2 linked regions of the Homo sapiens genome follow. The protein of the gene in region 1 interacts with the protein of each later gene in a biochemical or structural test. Each region holds a gene or a part of one and is shown on either strand. Other genes may lie near its edges. The genes, in order: DCP1B and NSMAF.

Region 1 (12,705 bases):
GTTTTGACATCTTAAAATCCTTTCTGGCTGGGGAGACTGCCCCTCCTGTGACCAGCCAGTGTTCAGAGATAGCAAAGGGCTTGGCCAGGAGCACGCCTTTAATATGCACACTAACCAATCCTGAGCCATACGTATCTCCTCGTCTCTGGCCTGTACAATATTCCTCTGCCTTAATCATCCCAGGGCCAGGTACCCAGCAACTGGGGACCACTCATACAGTTTAGAGCCTGCTGGAGTTATTCAAACTGGCCAATCTTAACCTGTTTACCATGCCCTGCCTTGCCTTCCTTGAGGAAATTCAGTAAATGCTCTAGCCTACGCCTTCCCCTTGCTGCTGACACCCTGAGGCTTCCACACGTGGCCCTGTGCAGCGTGGCATGCCTCTTGTCTCCAGGACCTGTGAGTATAATAAACTTTGTTTTCCTGAGACTCTCCTGTGTCTCCTCTCTGGCCTCACTTGAGTGACCATCACATAAAAGAACAGCACAAGCACACACATTCTCTGTCTCTCTCAGAAACACTCATATACGGTTCTGGAGATTTAATTTAGGCCATCACTTTATACTGTGCCTATGTCTTGGAATATTTTTCCCCTTACTTTATTTACCCTTCAGAATTTACATATCCTTTAAGGCTTAGTAAAAATGACACTTTTTACGTGGAGTTTTCCCAGGTCTCTTCAGTCAAATTAATTATTCTTCCATGTGAACTCAGTCTATTACTATTTAAAACTTATTTTGTTCTTCCTCATTTATTACATTAAGTCAACTTCTCCCAGTACACTGTAAACTGGTTGAAGTTAAAACAATGTTCTGTTCATCTTTATGCCCTCACAGATTTGTTATAATGTTGACATGAAGTGCAGACACTTAATTCGTGTATAGAAGGTGCTTTTCTGTAAAAATCAAATACATGTTGTTTTATGCGTAATGTCAGTTGCTCCAACTGTGAGATAAATAATAGAGGAAATTATTTCTTCTTCCATTAACAGCCAGATGTTGTGATACAGTGTGCCAGGACACCTGCATGATCACGCTACTTTCCTAGTCTCCGTTTTTCTTGGTTTGTCATTGCCCAGTACAGGAACCCTTGGAGTCTTCAAGCCTTCCCTAAGACGGCCTCAGTTTGTTCTTCTAACCCTACTACCCTCTACAAATATTTGAAACTCCTGCCAAACAGAATACTCATTTTGCTTCCTGAGAGTGCTTTCATGACTTTTCTCATACTGTTCCCACCCCTTCTTCACCCATCAAAATATGATCCAGCTTTCAGGGCCTGTTTCAGATGTTCTTTTTCCATCACCTTATTTTTGGCCGGCCTAACTAGGTGTGCATGCACCCTGCTAGCTGCCAGTGCCTTATGTTTGGAAAGAGCATTCCATCGCCTTCTTACATTGTGTTGTCTCTGCACTCACACACAGATATTTCAGAAAATGTGGAGACCCTGAGTAAAGTGGTTCTGAGACAGAAGAAAGGGGGTGAAATGGAAAGGTAGCGAGAGAGAAGGAAAACAGAATGTTCCTTCAGAGTTCTTGTTGGGAAGTGAGTCTCCGTTACTTAAAGTGTTCAAGAAGAGATTGAACAGTTACATATTGGTGATGTGATAAAAGAATTTGGCTTGTGTTGGATAAGTATTAAACTAAAAGACTTCTGAGATGGTTTTCAGTGCTAGACTTACTTTTATTGAAGTTTTCTTTTTAAAATTATTTTCAATGAAAAATTAAAATTGTATATATTTATGTATGGTATACAACATGATATTTTGATATGCATGTATATTATAGGGTGCCTAAATCAAGCTAATTAACACATGTATTACCTCACATATTTATCATTTTTGTGTGGCAAAAATAATTAAAATCTACTCTTTTAGCAACTTTCAGTATACAATATATTAGTACTAACTGTAGTCATCATGATGTACAATAAATCTCCTGAACTTATTCCTCCTGTCTAATTGAAAGTTTGTATCCTTTGACCAACATCTCCAAAATCCTCCTACCCCCAGCCTCCGGCAACTACCAGCCTACTGTGCTTCAGTGGGTTCAGCTTCTCTGGATTTCATGTAGGAGTGAAATCATGCAGTACTTGCCTTTCTGTGCCTGGTTTATTTCACCTAATGTAATGTCCTCCAGGTTCATCCATGTTGTTGCAAATGACAGAATTTCCTTCTTTTTTGAGGCTGAATAGTATTCCATTGTGTTTATACACCACATTTTCTTTATCCATTCATTCATTGATGAACACTTAGGTTTATTCCATATATTGGCTATTGTAATGTTGTGGTGAACACAGGAATGCAGCTATCTCTTCAACATACTGATTTCATTTTCCCTGGATATATACCCAGAAATGGGATTCTTCGATCATGTGGTAGTTCTATTTCTAATTTTTTGAGGAGCCAACATAAATTTTTTTTTTTTTTTTTGAGACGGAGTCTTGCTCTGTCACCCAAGCTGGAGTGCAGTGGAGCAATCTTGGCTCATGGCAAGCTCTACCTCCTGGGTTCACGCCATTCTCCTACCTCAGCCTCCCAAGTAGCTGGGACTACAGGCGCCCTCCACCATGCCCGGATAATTTTTTTGTATTTTTAGTAGAGACGGGGTTTCACCGTGTTAGCCAGGATGGTCTCGATCTGCTGACCTCGTGATCCGCCCGCCTCAGCCTCACAAAGTGCTGGGATTACAGGCGTGAGCCACTGCACCTGGCCCAACATGCTATTTTCCATAATAGCTATGCTAACTAATATTCCCACCAACAGTATACAAGGATTTCCTTTTCTGTACATCCTTGCCACCACTTATGTTTTGCCTTTTTGATGGTAGACATTCTACCAGGTTTGAGGTGATATTTCACTGTGGTTTTAATTTGCATTTCCCTGATGATTAGCGATGTCGAGCATTTTTCACATACCTATTGGCCACATGTATGTCTTCTTTTGAAAAATGTCCACTCAGGCCCTTTGTCTATATTTTGATCAGAACATTTGTTTTCTTTTCTTACTGTTGAGTTGTTTGAGTTCCTTATCTACTTTGGACATGAATCTCTTATCGTATGTATGTTGTGCAGGTATCTTCCTCCACTCCATAGGTCATCTCTTCACTCTGCTGTTTCCTTTGCTATGCAACAGCCTTGGGTTGGATGTAATCCTGTGTGTCTCTTGCTTTTGTTGCCTGTCCTTAGGGTCACATCGAAAAAGCCATTGCCCAGAGCAACGTTAGGGAGCTTTTCCCCTGTTTCCTTCCAGGAGGTTTATAGAAAAAGTCATTGCCCAGAGCGACGTTGGGGAGCTTTCCCCCTGTTTCCTTCCAGGAGGTTTATAGAAAAAGTCATTGCCCAGAGCAACGTTGGGGAGCTTTCCCCCTGTTTCCTTCCAGGAGGTTTATAGAAAAAGTCATTGCCCAGAGCGACGTTGGGGAGCTTTTCCCCTGTTTCCTTCCAGGAGGTTTATAGAAAAAGTCATTGCCCAGAGCGACGTTGGGGAGCTTTTCCCCTGTTTCCTTCCAGGAGGTTTATAGAAAAAGTCATTGCCCAAAGCGACGTTGGGGAGCTTTTCCCCTGTTTCCTTCCAGGAGGTTTATAGAAAAAGCCATTGCCCAGAGCGACGTTGGGGAGCTTTTCCCCTGTTTCCTTCCGGGAGGTTTATAGAAAAAGTCATTGCCCAGAGCGACGTTGGGGAGCTTTTCCCCTGTCTCCTTCCGGGAGGTTTATGGAAAAAGTCATTGCCCAGAGCGACGTTGGGGAGCTTTTCCCCTGTCTCCTTCCAGGAGGTTTATAGAAAAAGTCATTGCCCAGAGCGACGTTAGGGAGCTTTTCCCCTGTCTTCTTCCAGGAGGTTTATAGAAAAAGCCATTGCGCAGAGCGACGTTAGGGAGCTTTTCCCCTGTCTTCTTCCAGGAGGTTTATAGAAAAAGCCATTGCCCAGAGCGACGTTAGGGAGCTTTTCCCCTGTTTCCTTCCAGGAGGTTTATAGAAAAAGCCATTGCCCAGAGCGACGTTAGGGAGCTTTTCCCCTGTCTTCTTCCAGGAGGTTTATAGAAGAAGCCATTGCCCAGAGCGACGTTAGGGAGCTTTTCCCCTGTCTTCTTCCAGTAGGTTTATAGAAAAAGTCATTACCCAGAGCAACGTTGGGGAGCTTTTCCCCTGTTTCCTTCCAGGAGGTTTATAGAAAAAGTCATTGCCCAGAGCAACGTTAGGGAGCTTTTCCCCTGTTTCCTTCCAGGAGGTTTATAGAAAAAGTCATTGCCCAGAGCGACGTTAGGGAGCTTTTCCCCTGTTTCCTTCCAGGAGGTTCATAGAAAAAGCCATTGCCCAGAGCGACGTTGGGGAGCTTTTCCCCTGTTTCCTTCCAGGAGGTTTATAGAAAAAGTCTGCCCAGAGCGACGTTGGGGAGCTTTTCCCCTGTTTCCTTCCAGGAGGTTTATAGTCTCAGGCCTTACGCTTAAGTCTCTCTAGAATTCTTAAATTTGTGAACATCCCAAGAAGTGGAAGTAGGAAAAATGTTGAGCTATCAGTATATATGATATGGGTAAAGTGAAGTCTGTCTAGTTTACAGGAGGTTAATAAAATAATTTGAAAACTTATTTTGGCTGAAATTTTGTGCATTCTCTTTTGAGAAATAACTTTCTGTGAATCTGCTTTAAAGTAGAAAAGATGTTAATTTGCATTTCATCTCTTTTTATCTCCGCCCTATTCAATTTCTAGTTGAGATGCAAGTGAACAGTAAAATAACCAAATTTTAGTAAGAACAAGAGGCAGGACCAGAAATGATCTACAGGCTGCATAGTTAAGCTTGGAGTATTCAGAAGTGGACTATTTGTGTTTTGTGGTTTAAGACAAGAATTATTGGCTCTTTTCTGGATATAGCTGTGAGTTATTTATGAAATTATAGAAATTTTTTTGTTGAATGATAGAATTCAAAAGAATATAAAAAGAAAAATCACCAATAATCCTATAAACTGAAGATAGAAACTTTTTATACTTTTATTGTATTTTGTTTCAAACATCTCTCTTGGCATAAATACATATGTTTATGTATGTATGTGTTTGTGTGTGATTAAAACTGGATTATATGACATACTTTTTGAGGTTTTATTGTATTTTAACCTCAGCATCCAACAGAGGAAGTTTTTGAAGTTTTAAAGAAATGCCTCAGGTTCTCTGTGAAGAATCCATTATATGCTTTTTCAAAAACTGTTTTTCCCCCCAGGATTTTAAAGATATTTAGGTCGGGAAAAGCATACAAAATTAAACAACTGGAAAATGAGCTACAAACTACTGAGGTGGATGATTAATTCTGAGCACTCTGATAAGAGGGAGCAATTGTTACATAAAAGCAAGGTTTTGTAGGTAGGCAGTTGTAGTGACACAGAAAACAGCTTCTGGAGATAACATTTTAACTAGGAAAAGCTATCAGGCTTATTCATATCAACAGACAAAGCATCCTGTTAGCCCATATGGATATGGGCATAGGGAAGCTGGGAAAAATCTGCCTTTCTTTGCCGGAAATTCAGTGTTTCTGAACATAGAAAAAGAAGAAATACAGAAAGCGTCATTCAAAGAAAGGAAGCATTCACGTTCTTTTAAATAGCAAGGCTTTTCATGCCAAAATTGTGTAAGGGATTAAATGTTAGCCTGTATTCTTGTCTTGTCTTGGTTATCCATGACTTGGGAAAGCCATGCCAGTTGGTCCATGCCGCCATACCCTCATTCACCTAAGAAGAATTGGAAGTAACACTTTATGACTTATAAGGTGATTTTGCATCCCACGTAATACTTGTGCTAAATATACAAATTATTGATAGAATGCCTGGAGGAAGAGAATCTTTTGTATGGTTAACCTCACATACAGTGCATACAGTGGTAATAGATGCCACACCCCCAGATCGTTGGATTAGAGAATACACATTGATAACTGTAAAACACATTGGGAATGCTGGGTTCCTGAGGGACAAGATTGTGTTTATATTTCATTTCATGTCAGGTGTGGAATATTTTGGGGCCTGAGGCCTTGGCTGTACAGTGGAAACAAATGATGCTTCAGAGAGTCTGTAGTACAGAAAGCAGCATTTTATATTGTTTTATTTAGTGTTTTAGCAAACTAGACACCAGTATCATTGCCATGCTCTTTTTGTTATGAATCCTACTGTGTTAGCAATTGCATGGTTGGTTAGATTAATGTATAATAATGAGTCAGTGTTGGAAATGATGAGATTTGTCTCTTGTCTCTTTCTCTACAAAATTCTAATTTGTAGTAAGTAGCTCAGAACGCTCAGATTTGAATTACTCTGTTTATGCAAGAAGTCATTTATTAAATAAAGATGATGTTAGTAATTTTTAAATCAGTGGTTTGAGTCAGCTTTTTGGTTTGTAGACCAAAAAAGATTTAGTTACTTTGATGAAATGTACTCAACTACTCTCCAATTTTAAGTCAACTGCTTAAATTGTCCAGACATGTTATTTAAGGAATGGTTTCTATATTTGTTTATCATTGAAAGACATTAGACTATATATATTTAAACGTATAGTCAATATATTAAGCACAGAACCTTTCAATTATACAGGTGTCTTAAGAACCCCTGGTCCTGGAGGCTGGTGTTGTTAGTAATATTTAGAGCACTGAATTGTCCAACTAAGAAAAATTAAATTTTAACTTGATTTATACTCAAACATAGCTCTTAGAGAAATTTAAGGGATTTTCCTTTGTGCATGAAAATCTATCAAAAACACAGCCGTCTACCAATTAGATAAGAAGTAAAAAGGTAGTCTTTTAAAAAGACTAAAGCTTTTCTAAGCCAAAAATGAGGGGATTTTCTTTTCTATTTCAGTGTAAAACCTGTTCTGAGCCAAAAAAGATAACCAGTTCCTCTGCCATCTATGACAATCCAAATCTCATCAAACCAATTCCAGTGAAACCCAGTGAAAACCAGCAACAGCGTATACCTCAGCCCAACCAGGTACGGAGTTCTCTGCTTGTCATATTCAGTGTGTCTCTAGAATTCTTAAAGAACTTTGACCCAGAATATAGTCAGGGGAGGGCCTGGTGTTGTTGAAGAATGCTTTCAGGTAAACCCAAGAAAGCGGGATTTCAGAATACAGATTTTTTCATTATTAATAACTTACTCTTCCTAGAAGAGGGTTAAAGTTTTTACTTTTGGCATATACCACATTCTGTGCTAATCTCTTGTGAACTTGAACTCCTTAAAAGATAATGTATTTTTTAAAAAACAACAAGCCAGCACAGTGGCTCAAGCCTGTAATCCCAGCACTTTGAGAGGCTGAGGCGAGAGGATCATTTGAGGCCAGAAGTTTGAGAGCAGCCTGGGCAACACAGTGAGACTCCATCTCTACAGGAAAATTAGCCAGGCATGATGGCGTGCACCTGTAGTGCTAGCTGCTCTGGAGGCTGAGGCGGGAGGATCCCTTGAGCTTAGGAGTTTGAGGTTACGGTGAGCTATGGAATGCGCCACTGCACTCCAGCCTGGGCAAGAAAGCAAGACCATGTCTCAGAAAACAAAAACAAACAAACAAGCACCCTAGAAAACTAATAACATTGTCAGAGATGACAGAAACATTACCCATTGGGTCCATATTCTTCTGGGGTGGGTGGCTTCCCAAGGCCACCTGGGAGAACCACCAAGGACACAGAGTTGATTTGAGCACTTCTGAGCACCTCCTCTGTGCCAGATGCAGAGCTAGCACTGTAGACTGGGGTAGCTGCCGCCGAGAGCTCAGAGTCCAAAGGAATGGTATAAAACTCCTCTTCAGATATGATGACTTGTCACTGTCTTTGCAATCTAAATTAGAAATATTACAGCAGCTTTTGTGTTAGTGTATATATATATATATATACACTTCAGAATAGTACAGCAATGACAAAAATTGTCAATCTGTAGGTCCCATTAATGATTGTAAATATAATATTGCTGTGTCATTTTATCATGACTATGACTAATTAAAAAGATTTTCTTAAAGGAATTAGTTTATATCAATTTTGAAAATGAACATGGAGCCAAAAGACATAAAGACTAGTAATGAAAATCTTATATTGAATTTTTAAAGAAAAGAAGTCTTCTAATTTTTTAGCTTTCTTTTTATTGCTTGTTTTATGGAAAGTTTTTATTATATTTTAATAGCGAGACCTGAATATGTTGACTTTAAAATGAAGCTTGTGGTTTTTTTTCTTTCCTCTTTTATTTTTTTTTTTGAGACAGATTTCATTCCTGTTACCCGGGCTGGAGTGCAGTGGCACCATCTCAGCTCACTGCAACTTGTGTCTCCTGGGCTCAAGCAATCCTCCCACCTCAGCCTCCCAAGTAGCTGGGACTACAGGCGTGTGCTGCCACATCTGGCAATTTCTGTATTTTTTGTAGAGATGGGGTTTTGCCATGTTGCCCAGGCTGGTCTTGAACTCCTTAGCTCAAGCAGTCTGCCTGCCTTGGCCTCCCAAAGTGCAGGAATTACAGGCATGAGCCACTGTGCCTAGCCTCATGTTTTCTCAGTGCAACAATGCAGAAAGCAACAGAAGTAAAGAGCAAGAAGGAAGTAGCTTTGTAACTGGCTGGGCCAAGGTAGATTTTATGTATCCAAGGACTTTTTAAATCCTACCAGTATATATTTGAAAGGATCAAGTTAGATTTAAAGTCTTCCGTTTCTTTCCAGCCCTTGATTTCCATAATTCTGTGAAAAACTACTAGAAATTCTGAAATGCTTATATTCCTTTGTATTCTCATATTACTCTGCAGGCTTAGATGGGCTTCCTATTGAACAGATTGTTTATTTTTTTAGTGCATATAATTTCCTACCAAGGTGGTTCCCAATCTGTGAAACCCCAGGCCCTTGAAGATCTTATACCTGTTTTATCGGTCAACAGATATTAAAATATAATAACTGTTTTGGGGGTGCAAGGGGAGCATGCTGTGAAAATTTTTGACATTAAAAAGGGGATCTCATTTTTCAAGTTTATTATTATTATTTTTCATTCTCTCTAATCAATCCTTTGTAAATAGAATAAGTCATCAGATAAGTTATGTTTCATAGCACTTCCTCATATAACCAAATTGTTTGTAGACTCATGTCAGATATCTTTATTTTTTCCAGACCTTAGACCCTGAACCCCAACACTTATCCTTGACAGCTCTGTTTGGGAAGCAGGACAAAGCTACATGTCAGGAAACTGTGGAGCCTCCGCAGACTCTCCACCAGCAGCAGCAGCAGCAGCAGCAGCAGCAAGAGAAGCTTCCAATTAGGCAGGGGGTTGTACGCTCCCTGTCCTATGAGGAACCCAGAAGACACTCACCCCCCATTGAGAAGCAGCTCTGTCCAGCCATTCAGAAACTCATGGTCAGGAGCGCAGACCTCCACCCATTGTCAGAGCTGCCTGAAAACCGGCCTTGTGAAAATGGCAGTACCCATTCTGCGGGAGAATTTTTTACAGGACCTGTCCAGCCAGGGTCTCCTCACAACATTGGAACTTCTCGTGGTGTACAAAATGCTTCCAGAACTCAGAACCTGTTCGAGAAACTTCAGAGTACCCCAGGGGCAGCAAACAAGTGTGACCCTAGTACACCAGCACCTGCCAGCTCAGCTGCCCTGAACCGCAGCAGAGCTCCCACTTCTGTCACCCCTGTGGCTCCAGGAAAGGGTCTGGCTCAGCCACCACAGGCCTATTTCAATGGCTCCCTTCCACCTCAGACAGTAGGACATCAGGCTCATGGAAGAGAACAGTCCACACTCCCAAGACAAACACTCCCCATCTCTGGTAGTCAGACTGGCAGCTCTGGAGTGATCTCCCCTCAAGAGTTACTGAAGAAGCTTCAGATTGTACAGCAGGAGCAGCAGCTGCATGCCTCTAACCGGCCAGCCTTGGCCGCTAAGTTTCCTGTGCTCGCTCAGAGCTCTGGAACAGGGAAACCCTTGGAATCCTGGATCAACAAGACACCCAACACAGAACAGCAGACTCCTCTTTTCCAGGTAAATATGTACCAGGGGCAAAATAAAACAGCCTGGGCAGCATAGCAAGATCCTGTCCCTAAAAAAAAAAAAAAAGTAGCCAGGCTTGGTGTCACACGCCTATAGCACCAGCTACTGAGGAGGCTGAGGTGGGAGGATCCCTTGAGCTCAAGAGGCGGAGGTTACAGTGAACCATGATCGTGCCACTGCACTCCAGCCTGGGTGACAGAGCGAGACCCTGTCTGTTAAGAAAAAAAAAGACAGACAAAGAAAAAGGTATTACTATAATGCAGTGAAATGTAGAGTCCACTTCCATGCTCTAGGGACCAATGTGTCACGTACATTTCTGTTTGGAGCAGGGTGCACCTCCGTGCATCTTGATTGCCTGAACTTTCTACCTGGAAGGAGAATCTTCACTTTGGTTAACAATCTGAGAACTTCCCCCAACCTTTTTGAGAGCATTACTTGTAGAGTTAAATCTTCGTTATATTAGGAGGTCTGAAGACCAACACAGACATGGGAGAAAACCGTAATTTTTGACTGTAGGAACTTAGTATGGTCTGCCTTGAAATCAATCTGGAATGCCAAGCAACTGACCTCCTCTTGTTTTTCAGTCCACAGTAAATTATTCACTTATTTAGTAAATATTTTTGAGCACTTACTACATGTCAGGCATTGTCTACATGTGGGTACATAATGATGAAGAAAACAGACTCCTTACCCACAGCCCATGCTGTAGGTTCTTGAAATAAACAAAAAACAGCCTATTTCCTCCTGAAAGGTGCAGCCAGTTTTTATCTTTCTCTGTATCGTCAGTATAGCCTACTGTAGATCAGGAGAGGTATGCATGCCACCCACCTCCACCCCCCACACAAACTGCCAGAGAGGGAAAATATGACAGTTTTTAGAAAGATTCTCTCCTTTAGAGAAGATGCTTTTCCATGTCCATCACTGACTTGGGACAGTGAGGAAACCACAAGCTATTGATCATCTGCCTGTGGGTAACATCTGGAGATCTGACATTGAATTGTTTTCCCTTTGGATTGGAACACATTCATTGAAAGTACATTGGGTTTAAAAATTGGAAAGTTCTCCCTGTGTATCACATATATCATCACTGGCCCTTTGTCATGTTTTGTTATGTACCTTTTTTTGTTTTTTGAGACAGAGTTTCACTCTTGTCGCCCAGGCTGGAGTACAATGGTGCGATCTCGGCTCACTGCAACCTCCACCTCCCGGGTTCAGGCGATTCTGCTGCCTCAGCCTCCTGAGTAGCAGGGATTACAGGCACCTGCCACCACACCTGGCTAATTTTTTGTATTTTTTTAGTAGAGACGAGGTGTCACGATGTTGGCCTGGCTGGTCTCGAACTTCTGACCTCAGGTGATCCACCCACCTCGGGCTCTCAGAGTGCTGGGATTACAGTCGTGAGCCACTGCACCTGGCCTGTTATGTAACTTATAACAGTTTCTCAAAAATCTTGAACTTTTGGCTGGGCATGGTGACTCGTGCCTGTAATCCCAGCACTTTGGAGGTTAAGATAGGAGAATCGCTTGAACCTAGGAGTTTCAGACCAGCCTGGGCAACATAGACCCTGTCTCTACAAGAATTTTTTGTTTTTAATTAGCCGGGTATGGTGGCATGCCACTGTGGTCCCAGCTACTTGGGAGGCTGAAGTGGGAAGATTGCTTGAGCCCAAGAAGTTGAGGCTGCAGTCAGCCATGTTTGCACCACTGCACTCCAGCCTGGGCAGTAGAGTGAGACCTTGTCTCAAAACAAAAAATTCAGTTTTTTGAAAACAAAGACCTTAGGCATGTGCCAAAAGTCTTTGTGAGCCCCTGAGTCAAAGTGTTCTCATTTATTATTTATTAACATCCCAAATCTGAGTACCGACTGCTATAGAAACAATATTTATAACTCCCACTCCCCCTCATTTCAGTGTTATTGTCCCTTTTTTAAAAATGTCTGCTTTTTTCCTCTTTGATGATTTAGAATTAGAAGCATGCGATGAATATAGTCTGACTTAAATTTCTGATGTACAACTCCCTTGACTTTTCAGTACTCACAAATATCAAGAGCCGAGTGAGAAAGGCAAGCATTTCAGCAGCCCACGCTGTGCTCAGAATGCTTGACTCCACCTCCGGGAGCATCACTGCTCAGCACCGCTCCTCGAAATGTCATGTAGGGACAAGTTAAAAGAAACAGCCTGCCTTCCTCTAGGCCAACTTTTGCTCAAAGAGACGCTAAGGGATTGATTATAAAATTACAGCAACTTCTAGCTTGCTGGCCTCCTTGCCTCCCTCTTAGGAGTTCTTTCGGGGAGTTCGGAGGCTGATAAATAACATTCTTTTTCTTCCCTGAGTTAGAAGCAAATGATAGCTGTAGGAGTCAGTCAGATAAGGATCAAAATGTCACTTGCATAACTGAAAGGGCTGTTAGAAAACTTGGTTTCAGGTCTGTTTGCCAAGGGAGTTAGACTCAGCAGACAGGCTCTGGCAGGGCTGAGCAACAGGCCGCCCGGGTCAGCCCAAACACATCAGCTGCGGAAGCTGAAGATGAGGGCTCTCTGCAGGCAGGCAGATCCTGTCAGGGAAGGACCCAGAAGGGGTGGACCCACACATCACTCTCCCTCCCCACGAGAAGTGAGTGAGGCCGCAGGAGGGGCGGGGAGTTGCTCTCACAGCGCCTCCTGTGCTCCGGGGTCAGGAGGGGAAATGGGGAGGCCCCTAACAAGGGTGGCAGCTCACATAGGTTG
Region 2 (12,705 bases), on another chromosome or scaffold:
CTCTTGCTTTGGCCTCTCAAAGTGCTGGGATTACAGGTGTGAGCCAACATGCCTAGACTGTTCTTGATCCTTTATCATATTTACTATAGTTATCTTAAAGTCTTCCTCTGATTGATCCAATGTCTGACACACCTTCTATAGAGTCTTTTCTCTCTTGAGCATGAGTCATATTTTCTTGCTTCTTTGTTATGCATTATAATTTTATTGTATTGTAATTTTTTTATTGAGCAGTTTGTTAAAAAGGAAGTGTTGAGACCGAACTAAATAATATTTACCTCCAGAAGTGGTCAAGCCACCTCTTATTCTGTCAGGCTACTTGTACAGGGAGGCTCTGTCAATCAAATCTGTCACTGAGCTGCATTAAGACTTTGTTGCACCTGTGGTTAAATTTAAGCCAACACTGCCTACAACTCTATTGAGGGAGTGATAAAGACTTTCTCTTCCACAGGACTTGGGATCTCAGCACTTGAAGGATTCTAGAGATATCTTTGTGCTTTATAACTGAGCCATCGGGTTTCTGAACTGTGGGAGATTTCCCTTGTTTTGCACCTCAGTCGACAGCATTTTTGGATCTCTGGGGAGCTTTCTTTGCTCTCCAGTCTCAACTCTGGCTTTCCATTTCCCTGAAGATCTCTCTTCATTCTGCAGCCCTTACTCACTTCTATCATAGGTTGCTCCTCCTCCTGCCACTCACCTGTTGATCTCTTCTTTCCTTTTTGCAATCATGTTCATTTAGGTTGCTTTACATGCTCAACATTCCAGTCGGTTTTAAAAAGCTATGAAGATTGTTCAGTATATCCAGCTCATTTTGGTTGTTAGGGTGAAAGCTTCAACAGTCTCTTACAGCTTTCCCATCCTAACTTGAGGTGGAGATCTTCCTCTGTATCTTTTTGTCCTGTCACTTATAAAGAGATTTATTTTTAACCCAGTTATTTCAGTAATTGCCTTAAAATGTTGATGATTTGGTTGTTTTCCCTTATTTTTTCTTAAATCAGTTAAAGCAGAATGAGAAGGGACTTTGTTGATTAAATATTTTAGGAGTGAGTAGTGAAGAGATCATTTTTCAGAGGTTTTCTGCAGTAAATTCACAGAGGGATATACTCAAAAATATACAAAGGAATATACAGTTACTCAAATGTATTATAATTCAAGTAATTATAATTATGTAGTCAGAGCCTTATAAAGTGTAGTGTGAAATAAATGCCACTTGTGTCAAAATGGTTTATAGGATGATAAAAATAATGACAGAAAAATAGGAAATAATTTAAATGTAAGAATAGTTTCAAGGCCTATTTATTTTGGGGGGAATGAGTTTAGCTAAGGGTTATTTGGTATTATTTACTTGTCTGTCATGGCTTCTGTGGTAGATAATCTCACCTATTTCTTTGAAAAATGAGTTTTTATCATGCCATTTCTAAAGAGTCAGTTTTATCTAAGCAATCAATTTATATTACCATTTTTCTTATATTAAATGTAGTGTTTAGACAAATGTCATAGAAAGTCACACTGTAGCTCCCTTAGATAAACCTAGAAAGTAGATCAATTTCTGATTTTTCTTACTTTTGCTGAAAAACCTATTTTCAGGTTCCAAAACATTTCTGAAAAGCTGCACATGGAATGCAAAGCAGAAATGGTGACGCCTCTGGTGACTAATCCTGGACACGTGTGCATCACGGACACAAACCTGTATTTTCAGCCCCTCAACGGCTACCCGGTGTGTAGACCACAGGGTCAGGTGGGGAGCTGCCCATGTTTAAGCTGTTTCCAGACCATGGCCTCACAATGCCAGGGACCTCACTTTTTGATGAGGATCAAGTCATGTCCCTGCCCACCCCCTTCACAGGCAGCATCTGTGTATTTTACAAACACCGTGTGTAATCGTGATGTGTAGTCTCTGAAGTTTGAGTTCTTCTGATCTGTTTTCAGTCATGTCAGGGGCACTTGCTCTCAGTGTGGTGAAAAGAAACCCTGCTCCTCCCTATTTTAGTAAAGGGTCGCTAGAGATTTAGACCTTTCTTCTAGGAGGCATTTCCTAGAGACCAGTGAAATATACTATGATTAATAAGAAATAGATTTTGAAATATATTTGCTTATATATACACAGATGTTGGTATTTCTTGCTTCTTCTTAATGATGAACAACCTCAGTAGATCTGAATTTTTCCTGAAGGAGCACTATGAGCAGGTCCTCCCAGCTAGTGCAGAGGTGTGTGTGGAGATCCTGCCGTCTGGCAGTTATGGGCTCCTGCTAGGATGTTGGAAACAATCTTCTCTTTCACAATGACACAGACTTACAAGGCCAGAAAATAAATATAAACTTAGATATCCATGCTGAAACTTGTAAAGATTTGTTGCTTATCTAGATCTGGCCACTTTTTAGCATGATCCATTAAAAGAACAGAAATCCTAACACACCCTGGTAGTGCTGTGGGGCCATTTGGCAGGGCCCAAGAATTCTGCCAGAGAAAGTTCCACCTTGGAAATTCTCCAGGCTGGTCATTACAGGGCACTAAAACATCTCAAACTCTCCTGAGTGAAAGATTATGCTATAGTGATTGTGTCCACTAGGTGGTGGGGCTCACTTTCCTAGTTCTCCAGTAGACACTGCATGCTGCTAGCACAGCATTCTCAGGGAGTGTAAAAAATTGGCTTGGCTGCTACTATTGCTTGGGTCAGAAATTTTGAGAAAAAATGTCTGTGTACCCTAGCTTCACAATCCATGGTATGGGCCTTTACCCCTTCCCAATACTGGCCAGGATCCTTGACCAGTCATTTCCAAGACCTGACTCTGGGACTCCGGGGCAGTTTCCACTGTTGGACAGACTGACCTCTGCACACCCATCTTCCCTCCTACTTGGGAGGAGGACCACGGAAGCATAGCCATTAGCCAATCTCTGCCTTTTTAAACCTCCTTTCTCTCTTACTAGTGTTTTAAAATTATAGAAAAGCAAGACAATTTTCTTCTTCATTAACAAAGAAAAAATTCAGAGGCCTTGCTTTATACTTTAGTAATCTGTGAGCCTTAATACACTGTAATTTTTAATGAGATAAAAGACAGGATTCTTTAAAAAAGATGTGTGTCAGTACTAAGCAAACTATTTGTCTAAAAAAAGATAGCAAGATTCCTGAGAGGTTATTTATGCCAGTTCTTTATATTTCTTATCACCCCACAATCTAACCTGAAAGATATCACCCCACCCCAAACTAACCTGAAATATCCCTGAAAGATAGATGATTGCATTATCATTTGCAGGGTGCCACATGGCGGGGAGGAAGACTTGCCCAAGGTCATAAAGCTAGTGAAAGATGGCAGAGCAGAATGGGAAACCAGATATCACCTTGTTCCAAGATTTCCTTTTCCAATGGTTTATTAGGAAAGCAAGATTTGGTGATTTTTTTTTCCCCTTTCTGATACTATAGAACAACTTCTAATTGTGTCAGAACAATAATGTTTGAGATTGTCTTTCTACTTTTAAAGAAACCTGTGGTCCAGATAACACTCCAAGATGTCCGCCGCATCTACAAAAGGAGGCACGGCCTCATGCCTCTGGTGAGTCCTTGGGAGGCTGTGCTGGGGCATGATTGTCACACTTTCAGTTTAGCCAGCAGTTTATTGACGGTAAACACTTATGGGATGTCTGAAAGTACAAGTACACTGTCCTGTAAGAAAATAGACTCTGATTTTGCTGTTCTTTCTTTTGGAGAAGGTAGAAATTCATAAAGGAATAACTCTTTCATGTAGAGAAGAGGTTCTATTATGAAGTATTTTTGGCTCCAAGAGCAAGAGGGCTAGAGTGCCCTTGAGTTTCTCATTCGTGCATTCTCAGTTTCTGGGCTCAGGCTAGAATGATCTGTGTAAAACCAACCCTGTGCTGTACTTGCCTCCACCATTCATAGCAGCTAGGTCTCAAAGCAAAATCTGGAAGATGTTACAAAATTACTTCTTTAGTGGAACTAGTATATTCACAGTTAACTTACATTAATTCAACCTTTGGGCTGAATGACAAAATAACCATGTAAAATCATATAGGCAGTTCCTTCCACCATTCCCTGAATAAGTGTATTTCTATACTTAGGTCCTATTTCCGACACATGTCTTACTTTAGTAACCAATCCCTACAGAAGGTATGATTCCAAGTGTTTTAATTCGACACCAATAGAAATTCATTTTTTCTCCTTTGAAGATTAACCAGTAACTTGGTGACATTACAAAAGCATTGTGGAATTTTAATTCTTATTTTTGTGCTTTTAATTTGTGAAATTCTACTGTTTTGCTTCCTATTTTACTTAAAAGGCCATTCCTCCATTTCCAGCACTAATAGCAGATCAGGGAAACAGATACTATTAAAAATCTCCTCTTTTGGGTATAGAGCTGCAGTCAGAAAAAGAGAAGAAATTAACATTGATTAAGTGCTTTCTATGTAACAGGCAATTTATATATAATGTTTCATTTATTCGCCATTATAAGCCTTGTGAAGTAGATAGTATTGTATTTTACAGGTGAAGAAATTGAGACTCCGGGGGTTAACTTCCTAAGCTCCCAGCTAGTACATGGTGAAAGCCTGTATTTGAACCAAGGGTAGCTCTGGGCTTTCATCCTGGCTTTGTCTGTTCCTTTGCTAGCTCAGCCTTACTAACACTATGGTCACAAAGCTCATAGGTTTTTATAAGATAATAATAATGTATTAATTGAATGGGTTATTCAATTATCAATTTGTTAGGTGTGCATAATTTTTATTTATTAGCTGGGCATGGTGCGCCTGTAGCCTTAGCTACTCGAGAGGCTGAGGTGGGAGGATCAATTGAGCCTGGGAGTTTGAGGCTGCAGTGAGCGGTGATCACACCATTGCACTCTAGCCTGGGCAACAGAGCAGGACCTGGTCTCAAAATATATATATGTTATTTAACTTATGAAAGAAAGCTAGACATTTATGTTTGAAGAAGAGATGTGAAGACATGGATCAGCTATTTTTGAATTTCAAAATAACAAGTTCACAAAAGCTATTATTAATGAAAATATTCAACACTCAAGGTGATTTACAAAGTTTAGCTGAGATACTATCTTGTTCTCAAAACATTTATAAATACAACATATATATATATACGCAAACGTATATGTGTATATATATCACTGAGTTAAATTTATAGATTGAAAATAGGAATATAAGTTATAAAAATAAACACAAATGTTTAACTGAATGTTTTTGTAATTATATACTTATATTGGGATTGCAAGATGAATACAATGCTATTTATTTTATTATTTTCTTTTTGAATTTATAGGGCTTGGAAGTATTTTGCACAGAAGATGATCTGTGTTCCGACATCTACCTAAAGTTCTATGAACCTCAAGATAGAGATGATCTCTATTTTTACATTGCCACATACCTAGGTTTGGCGCTCACCCTTCATTGTTTCTTTCTTTTTTTTTTTTTTTTGGAGGCTGAGTCTCGCTCTGTCACCCAGGCTGGAGTGCAGTGGCGTGATCTCGGCTCACTGCAACCTCCGCCTCCTGGGTTCAAGTGATTCTTGTGCCTCAGCCTCCCGAGTAGCTGGGACTACAGGTGCCCGCTACCACGCCAGGCTAATTTTTTTTGTATTTTTAGTAGAGACAGGGTTTCTTTTCATATGAAGGTAGTTCAACTCCTAAGGATCTGGGATAGGAAATAAGAGAAGAAAAATGCTATTTGTAGAATCGCCTCTTTGTGGGTCTAATTTCTTCTCATCAGTAACTATAATTGCCAAAATAATATTTTTAAAATTCTGGGAAATATAAATTCACTTTGATAATAGTTCATTCTGAATGTATGTTTTAAAAACTCTAGATAAATATATTTAAATGCTCTTATATTTTAACGTCCTCCAAATTGAATGGATTTTGAAGAATCCACTCAAATATTTTTATGTTCAGTCAGGTCTTATATTAGTTTATGAGAACCAAGACTCAGTTTTGTACTGCGAGGCAGTGAGTTATTCATATGTTTGTGATCATTGATTGTGGTCAGAACCACAAAGCTGAAAGACTGCAAAAGGAACATGTGAACCTTCTATGCTCAATATACTGACTTTGGAGTGGAATTTGCTTTTAATTAATGATATTTCCTCAGTTTTCCATGGAAAATGTGAATTTTCCCACCTTTGCCAGAGAAAATACTTATATTATGATGTTCAAGCCCAAAGTTTTTTTATTACATTGCAAGGCTAAATTAAATTATTCTAGTTTACAAAGTTGCTAGATAACTGGAAAGGAATTATCTTTAAAAATGGATTTTGGGGCTAGGCATGGTGGCTCATGACTGTAATCCCAGCACTTTCGGAGGCCGAGGAGGGAGAATCTCTTGAGCCCAGGAGTTCGAGACCAGCCTGGGCAACATGGCTTGACCTCATCTCTACAAAAACAATTAAAAATTAGCTGGGACTGGTGGCGTGTGCCTGTAGTCCCAGCTACTCGAGAGGCTGAAGTGGGAGGATCGCTTGAGCCTGGGAGGTCAAGGCTGCAGTGGGCAGTGATCACACCACTGCAATTCAGCCTGGGTGACAGAGTGAGACCCTGTCTCAAAAAAACAAACAAACAAAAAAGGATATTGGGATTTTATTAATATCATCTTAATGTGTTTGTTATTTTAGTGTACCACAAAACTATTTGTGAAATTTGTAGTAAAGTACATCTTCCCTTAGAAATGAAATTTTACTTCAAGGAGGAATACTTGGCTTTCAGTAGGGAACATATTTTATTTTAAAGTAGGTTTATATATATATATTATATATATCTATGTAGTTATATATAGTTTATATATAGTTATATATAGCTAGTATTTTATTCATACATTAAGCTATTGAAGGTAACTTTATGTATAAGTATAGCTTTGTTACAAGTTTACTTTAATTTCCTGTCTCATGATCTAGGTTTTTAAATTTTATTTTTTTTAACTATAACAAGATTACAATAAAAAGATCAACTTTCATGGTGAGTCCTAAAATCTCAAGCCAAAAACTTTGCCATGATCTAAAATATCCATTTTCTAAGAAACTGTCAGTTCTCACTGAGTTTATTCCTAAGATTGTTCATACTTTTTCTGAGGGGTTTCAAAAGTAGAAAACGAGGGGGAAGTGTGTTTTGATTTTTGAAGCCCTTTCCTAGTAGCTGATTAAAGAAGAAACTTGGTAAAAGTAGATGAGAATAAATATTAAGAGTTAAGATGCTTAATGCATCAGGAAAGGTTGAAAGCAGAATTTTCTGAACAAAATGGAAAATCCACTTGTAGGACAGTTAATTCATTTTACACTCTGAAAGGGAAGTTCTCATTGCTGCATTTATCTAAGATCTCATTTTTCCTGAGGTATTTCAGGGGGCAGGTCTGGTTCTTTTAGTTTGAGAATTGGTCCTCCTGCCAAACGCCTGTTTTCTTCTTTAACAATTTCTTTTCTTTTCCTTAGTCTTCACATGCATAAATAATATGTAGTCATTGACAAATTAGCAGTAGTACATCTCTTCCAAGCCTAAAAGAAAACTAAAAGATTGCTTTAATTTCATAAATAATAAAAGAAATAAGCTTTCCCAGATGGCCATGGGTTTTTAAATGCATGGAGACAGCACATTTGGAGGGATTCTTTGTTACTGTATAAATATTACCTATTAACATGTAATATTTATATATTTGCGCTACACTTTTGTATTTGTTTAGGTTATGTCATATTGTGGAGGGTAGTGTAATAGCTCAGTGTATTTAATAATTTCCCCTCCTTGATCTTGGAACTGTTTATACATAGCTGAACAAATACTTTATGAAAACAAGTCAGCAGCCTACTTTTCTTTTTCTTACAATGCATTTTTCAAGAATGCACAGGGATGGTCTACACGTTAAGCCCCTAGCTTTTGCATACTAAGTTTGCGAAGTTAAGTGGCAGACCTCGTGGGTCCTCTTCCCCCAGAGCACCATGTGGCGGAGCACACTGCTGAGAGCTACATGCTGCAGTGGCAGCGTGGACACCTTTCCAACTATCAGTACCTCCTTCACCTCAACAACCTGGCCGACCGCAGCTGCAACGACCTCTCCCAGTACCCTGTGTTTCCATGGATAATACATGATTATTCCAGCTCAGAACTAGGTAACTGCCACACGTGGAATTCTGACCAAGTTGAGTGGGGAGTAGTCATCTGTATTGTTTTTAAAGGACAGAATAAATTCTATTTTATAATTGTGATGTGACATGTGAACAAATTACAACTCATTTCAGTTGTATTGCTAAGGACTGCCAATTTCCATTCCAGGATACTATATAAGTGTTACGTAAGTGTTTCATGTATGTTTTTTCCACCATACTTCTTGAAGGACACACACAGAAAAAATGGGCATGATTTTAACCCAGGGTTATCATTATTACCTATAAGTACCACGTTTTGAAATATTTGCTTCTCACTTTGAAAATTTCACTCACCTTATATTATTTTTAAAAATCACATTAAAAACTGTGATTATTTGTTATAGAACACTTGGAAAGTCCTGAAATAATCAAAGAAGAAAATTAAAATCATCCATAATTATATTACAGAGATAACCACTTTACCTTTGGGGTATATCTACTCTTCTCTTGCTACCACAGATTATTTTAAGAAAAATGTAATTGTATTGTAACTTTATTTTGTAATATTTAAAAATTATATATTGTGAACAGTTAGTTCCTCTTGACACATTATCTTGAACCTTTGTCCTTGAAAGAGATAATAGATTTTCTAGAAATATGATAAAGTATTTCTCTGAAAATATTTAGCTCACTAGTTCTCAAATAGGCTAATATTGAAGAATAATAATATTCACTAGAATTCGAATGTAGAAAGTAAATCTTGGTAGAAGAATAATGGCTTTTAAAATTTTGTTGTTGTTGTTGTTTTACTTGGAATATATATATGTTCCTTAATCAGAAACTTTTTTAAAAAAATTAATGTTCAGGGCATTGTCAAATTAGAGATATTGCTCTTAAGTGGTTGTGTCTAACTTAAAACTCAAAATTGCTAACCTTTTCTTTACATCTACATAAATAACTAACAAAAATAACTCTCATGGATTGCTCTCAATTTTTAAAAAAACTTTTGTGGAAGTAAATGTGTATATTTGAATTAATTCAGGAGGTTAATGGTACTAAGTATAAGCTGAAGTTATTTATTGATTTATGTTTATAGATTTGTCAAATCCAGGAACCTTCCGGGATCTCAGTAAGCCAGTAGGGGCCCTAAATAAGGAACGGCTGGAGAGACTACTGGTATGTGGACTTAGAGATTCTTGGTTTCTAAGCAACACGAGAAGCCATGGCCTGTGTTTTTATGGAAGGAAATTCGTTTCTCCAAGGCTTAGGGGAATTATACCAGTGACTCTACGTAGAGTTTTTTCTTACTTTTCTCCTGACCGTGAATTAGCTGCTCACCATTTGCATTTCTTGTCTGCAGTTTAGGAAGGAGGAGGGCAACCTGTTTACAGGTTCACTGAATTATTTTCATGAAGGCATTCTGTGGTAAATCGCATAAGAGACACATAAAATCAGTTCTATTTAATCTAGTGCCAACATTTTGTTACCATTAAGCCAGGGAAACCAAAATACTTGTCTCAGGAATGCTGTTTAGCCACAGATTTTCTTTCCCTCTTATCTTCTCCTTTTCTTATCTAACAGAGAAATTAAGGAATATGGTATATCTATGTTATGATTTCTTTTAGGCTTTTTCTACTTGTCAGTTATTATTTCATAGCCAACACTTAGCTCTATTTTTTTTTTTTTTCTGTATTCTAGACACGCTACCAGGAAATGCCTGAACCAAAGTTCATGTATGGGAGTCACTACTCTTCCCCGGGTTATGTACTTTTTTATCTTGTTAGGATTGGTAAGATTCTTTATCATTACCCCCAATTAAATTTTATTTCACTGTATTCTTCAATGATTCTGTGACCTGACTTACCTCTGACTTTTTCCCCTCTAGCACCAGAGTATATGCTGTGCCTGCAGAATGGAAGATTTGATAATGCAGATAGAATGTTCAACAGGTTTGATACAAATGCCTTGCTTATCATTTTTAACACTTTCTGATTGTATATATACAACATACTTGTTTCAAAGCACTGGATATAATAAAAAAGTAAAGAAATGTAAAAAATCACTAATTGTTCTATCTATTCCTCTCAGGCTTTTTCTAGACATGTATATGTGTGTGTAAATGTGAGAACATATTTTATGTACAGCTTTTTGTCCTACCTTTTGTAGCCTAATATTAAATCTTAAAGTTTTTCCCATATTATTAGATATTCTTCAAAACAATGATTCTTTTTTAAAATTATTGTATCACATTCTAACATATGCCATATTTTATGTCAACTTCTTTTCTCCATTGTTGGGCATTTAGATTGTTTCCCACACTTTATTATTCTTGATAATTTTGCTGTGAATTGAATACAGCTCCCTGTGTGTATTTAGATGGCTTTACTTTTTAAATTATAAAAGTAATATTTTCTTGCCAAAAAAATCAGCAACTATAAAAAAGGAAATAAGTTTACTTGGTATCCCACCACACTGAGATAATAATTGTTGTAAATTTTTTGGTATGTCCTTTTCATTTTTTTTGAACTCTACACATATCTAATAATAATTCCTTTTGCAATGAGCCATTCAGATAGTGGTGCTAATCTTTTTTTTTTTTTTTTTTTTTTTTTGAGACAGAGTCTTGCTCTGTCGCCCAGGCTGGAGTACAGTGAGCAGAATCTCAGCTCACTGCAACCTCCGCCTCGGGTTCAAGCGATTCTCCTGCTTCAGTCTCCTGAGTAGCTGGGACTACAGGCGCATGCCACCACGCCCAGCTAATTTTTGTATTTTTAGTAGAGATGAGGTTTCACCATGTTGGCCAGGATGGTCTTGATCTCCTGACTTCGTGATCCACCCGCCTTGGCCTCCCAAAGTACTGAGATTACAGGTGTGAGCCACCGCGCCCTACCAGTGGTGCTAATCTTTCAGTGTGGAGGCACCCTGCTCCATTTGGCCCTTGGATGAGGCAATGTGTATATGGTAGCTAATGGTGTGGACTCGGACTCTATGCCCACTCCCGCCATGTGACCCTGGAGAAGTTACATAAACTCTCTGGGCCCCAGTGTTCCCTTTTGTTAAAGTGGGACACTCAGAGAGATGGTTAGAACTATGTGGAAATGACAAACAGAAGTTAATACAGGTAAAGTGTAGAACAGCCCCCAAGTGCATAGGAAATGCTGCTATTGCTATTTCCTTAGCTGAAAATAGGTGAATTTTTTTTTCATATGTAGTATTGCAGAAACTTGGAAAAACTGTCTGGATGGTGCAACGGATTTTAAAGAGGTAAGCAGTTAATAAAGCTGATGAGTAACTGGACTTGGGGTTTCTAACTGCTTTAAAACATGTTTGTTGTTCTTTTTTATTTTTCCCCGAAACTTTCAGTTAATTCCAGAATTCTATGGTGATGATGTGAGCTTTCTAGTCAATAGCCTGAAGTTGGATTTGGGAAAGAGACAAGGAGGACAGATGGTTGACGACGTGGAGCTTCCCCCTTGGGCTTCCAGTGAGTCCCCCCTTGGAGGTGTTGTATTATAGACATGCTTTACCAAGTAGTGCAATTTCAGTAATTATTTTATTGCTTAGATTTTTAAAAATCACAATATAATTCTCTAAATAAGGATATATGAGCCCTATTCCATATCAGAAGTATTCTATGAGTCTGTGATGTAAAAACATTAATATATATTTGAGAGACCTTAATGTGAAAATGATTCTTGCCACTTTTTTCCCCAAAAAACTTACATTTCATATGATAGAAAAAGAAAACTGCATTAAGAAATATGGACCTCTTGCCTGTCCTAGAAGCTTTATATACATATAGATAGACAAGAGAAATGGGAGGAAAAAAATGAAGACTCCATGATTTTTCGATTGAGTCTAATCTAATAGGTCCCGAGGACTTTCTCCAGAAGAGCAAAGATGCATTGGAAAGCAATTATGTGTCTGAACACCTTCACGAGTGGATTGATCTAATATTTGGCTACAAACAAAAAGGGAGTGATGCAGTTGGGGCCCATAATGGTATGTAATATTCATTGAAATTTTATTTAGCATTGGGTGAATATTTAGCATTATTCATTTTCATTGGAAAATGAAAGCAAACAATACCAACAAAAAAATGAGGCCAAAGCAATTAGTCTTATTTCTTCAGTGGAAGCATGTTCTGTCAGACTCCAGCGTCCACTGGCTGCATGACCCTGGATCAGATATTTTTTTGGTTTTCTTTTTGAGATGGAGTCTTGCTCTGTCACCAGGCTGGAGTGCAGTGACACAATCTTGGCTTACTGCAACCTCCGACTCCCTGGTTCGAGTGATTCTACTGCCTCAGCCTCCCGAGTAGCTGGGATTACAGGCACCTGCCATCATGCCCAGCTAATTTTTTTGTATTTTTTTTGGTCGTGACGGTTTCACCATGTTGGCCAGGTTGGTCTCAAACTCCTGACCTCAGGTGATCTGCCCACCTCGGCCTCCCAAAGTGCTGGGATTACAGGTGTGAGCCACTGCGCCCAGCCCCTGGATTAGATATTGAGTAACTGACAAGGAGGGAGGACTTTTGCCCAAATAATACCAAATTCATCCTGGCCCCAAGAGGTCTTTTTATAAAGTCTTCTAATTTTAGCATATACTCTACATCCCACTG

The links.
Region 2: the proteins of DCP1B (region 1) and NSMAF form a complex in vitro, tested with the Homo sapiens proteins (one study listed by BioGRID and IntAct).

The regions. Positions count from the first base shown.
Region 1 is NC_000012.12:1,949,682-1,962,386, reverse strand, and holds part of DCP1B (mRNA-decapping enzyme 1B), read left to right. Parts: intron 1-6,826; coding exon 6,827-6,955; intron 6,956-9,098; coding exon 9,099-9,971; intron 9,972-12,705. UniProt on the Homo sapiens protein: May play a role in the degradation of mRNAs, both in normal mRNA turnover and in nonsense-mediated mRNA decay. May remove the 7-methyl guanine cap structure from mRNA molecules, yielding a 5'-phosphorylated mRNA fragment and 7m-GDP.
Region 2 is NC_000008.11:58,598,613-58,611,317, reverse strand, and holds part of NSMAF (protein FAN), read left to right. Parts: intron 1-1,584; coding exon 1,585-1,714; coding exon of another isoform or gene 1,715-1,735; intron 1,736-3,477; coding exon 3,478-3,549; intron 3,550-5,282; coding exon 5,283-5,391; intron 5,392-7,907; coding exon of another isoform or gene 7,908-7,931; coding exon 7,932-8,108; intron 8,109-9,180; coding exon 9,181-9,260; intron 9,261-9,782; coding exon 9,783-9,873; intron 9,874-9,969; coding exon 9,970-10,033; intron 10,034-11,296; coding exon 11,297-11,348; intron 11,349-11,447; coding exon 11,448-11,568; coding exon of another isoform or gene 11,569-11,586; intron 11,587-11,821; exon of another isoform or gene 11,822-11,954; coding exon 11,955-12,086; intron 12,087-12,705. UniProt on the Homo sapiens protein: Couples the p55 TNF-receptor (TNF-R55 / TNFR1) to neutral sphingomyelinase (N-SMASE). Specifically binds to the N-smase activation domain of TNF-R55. May regulate ceramide production by N-SMASE.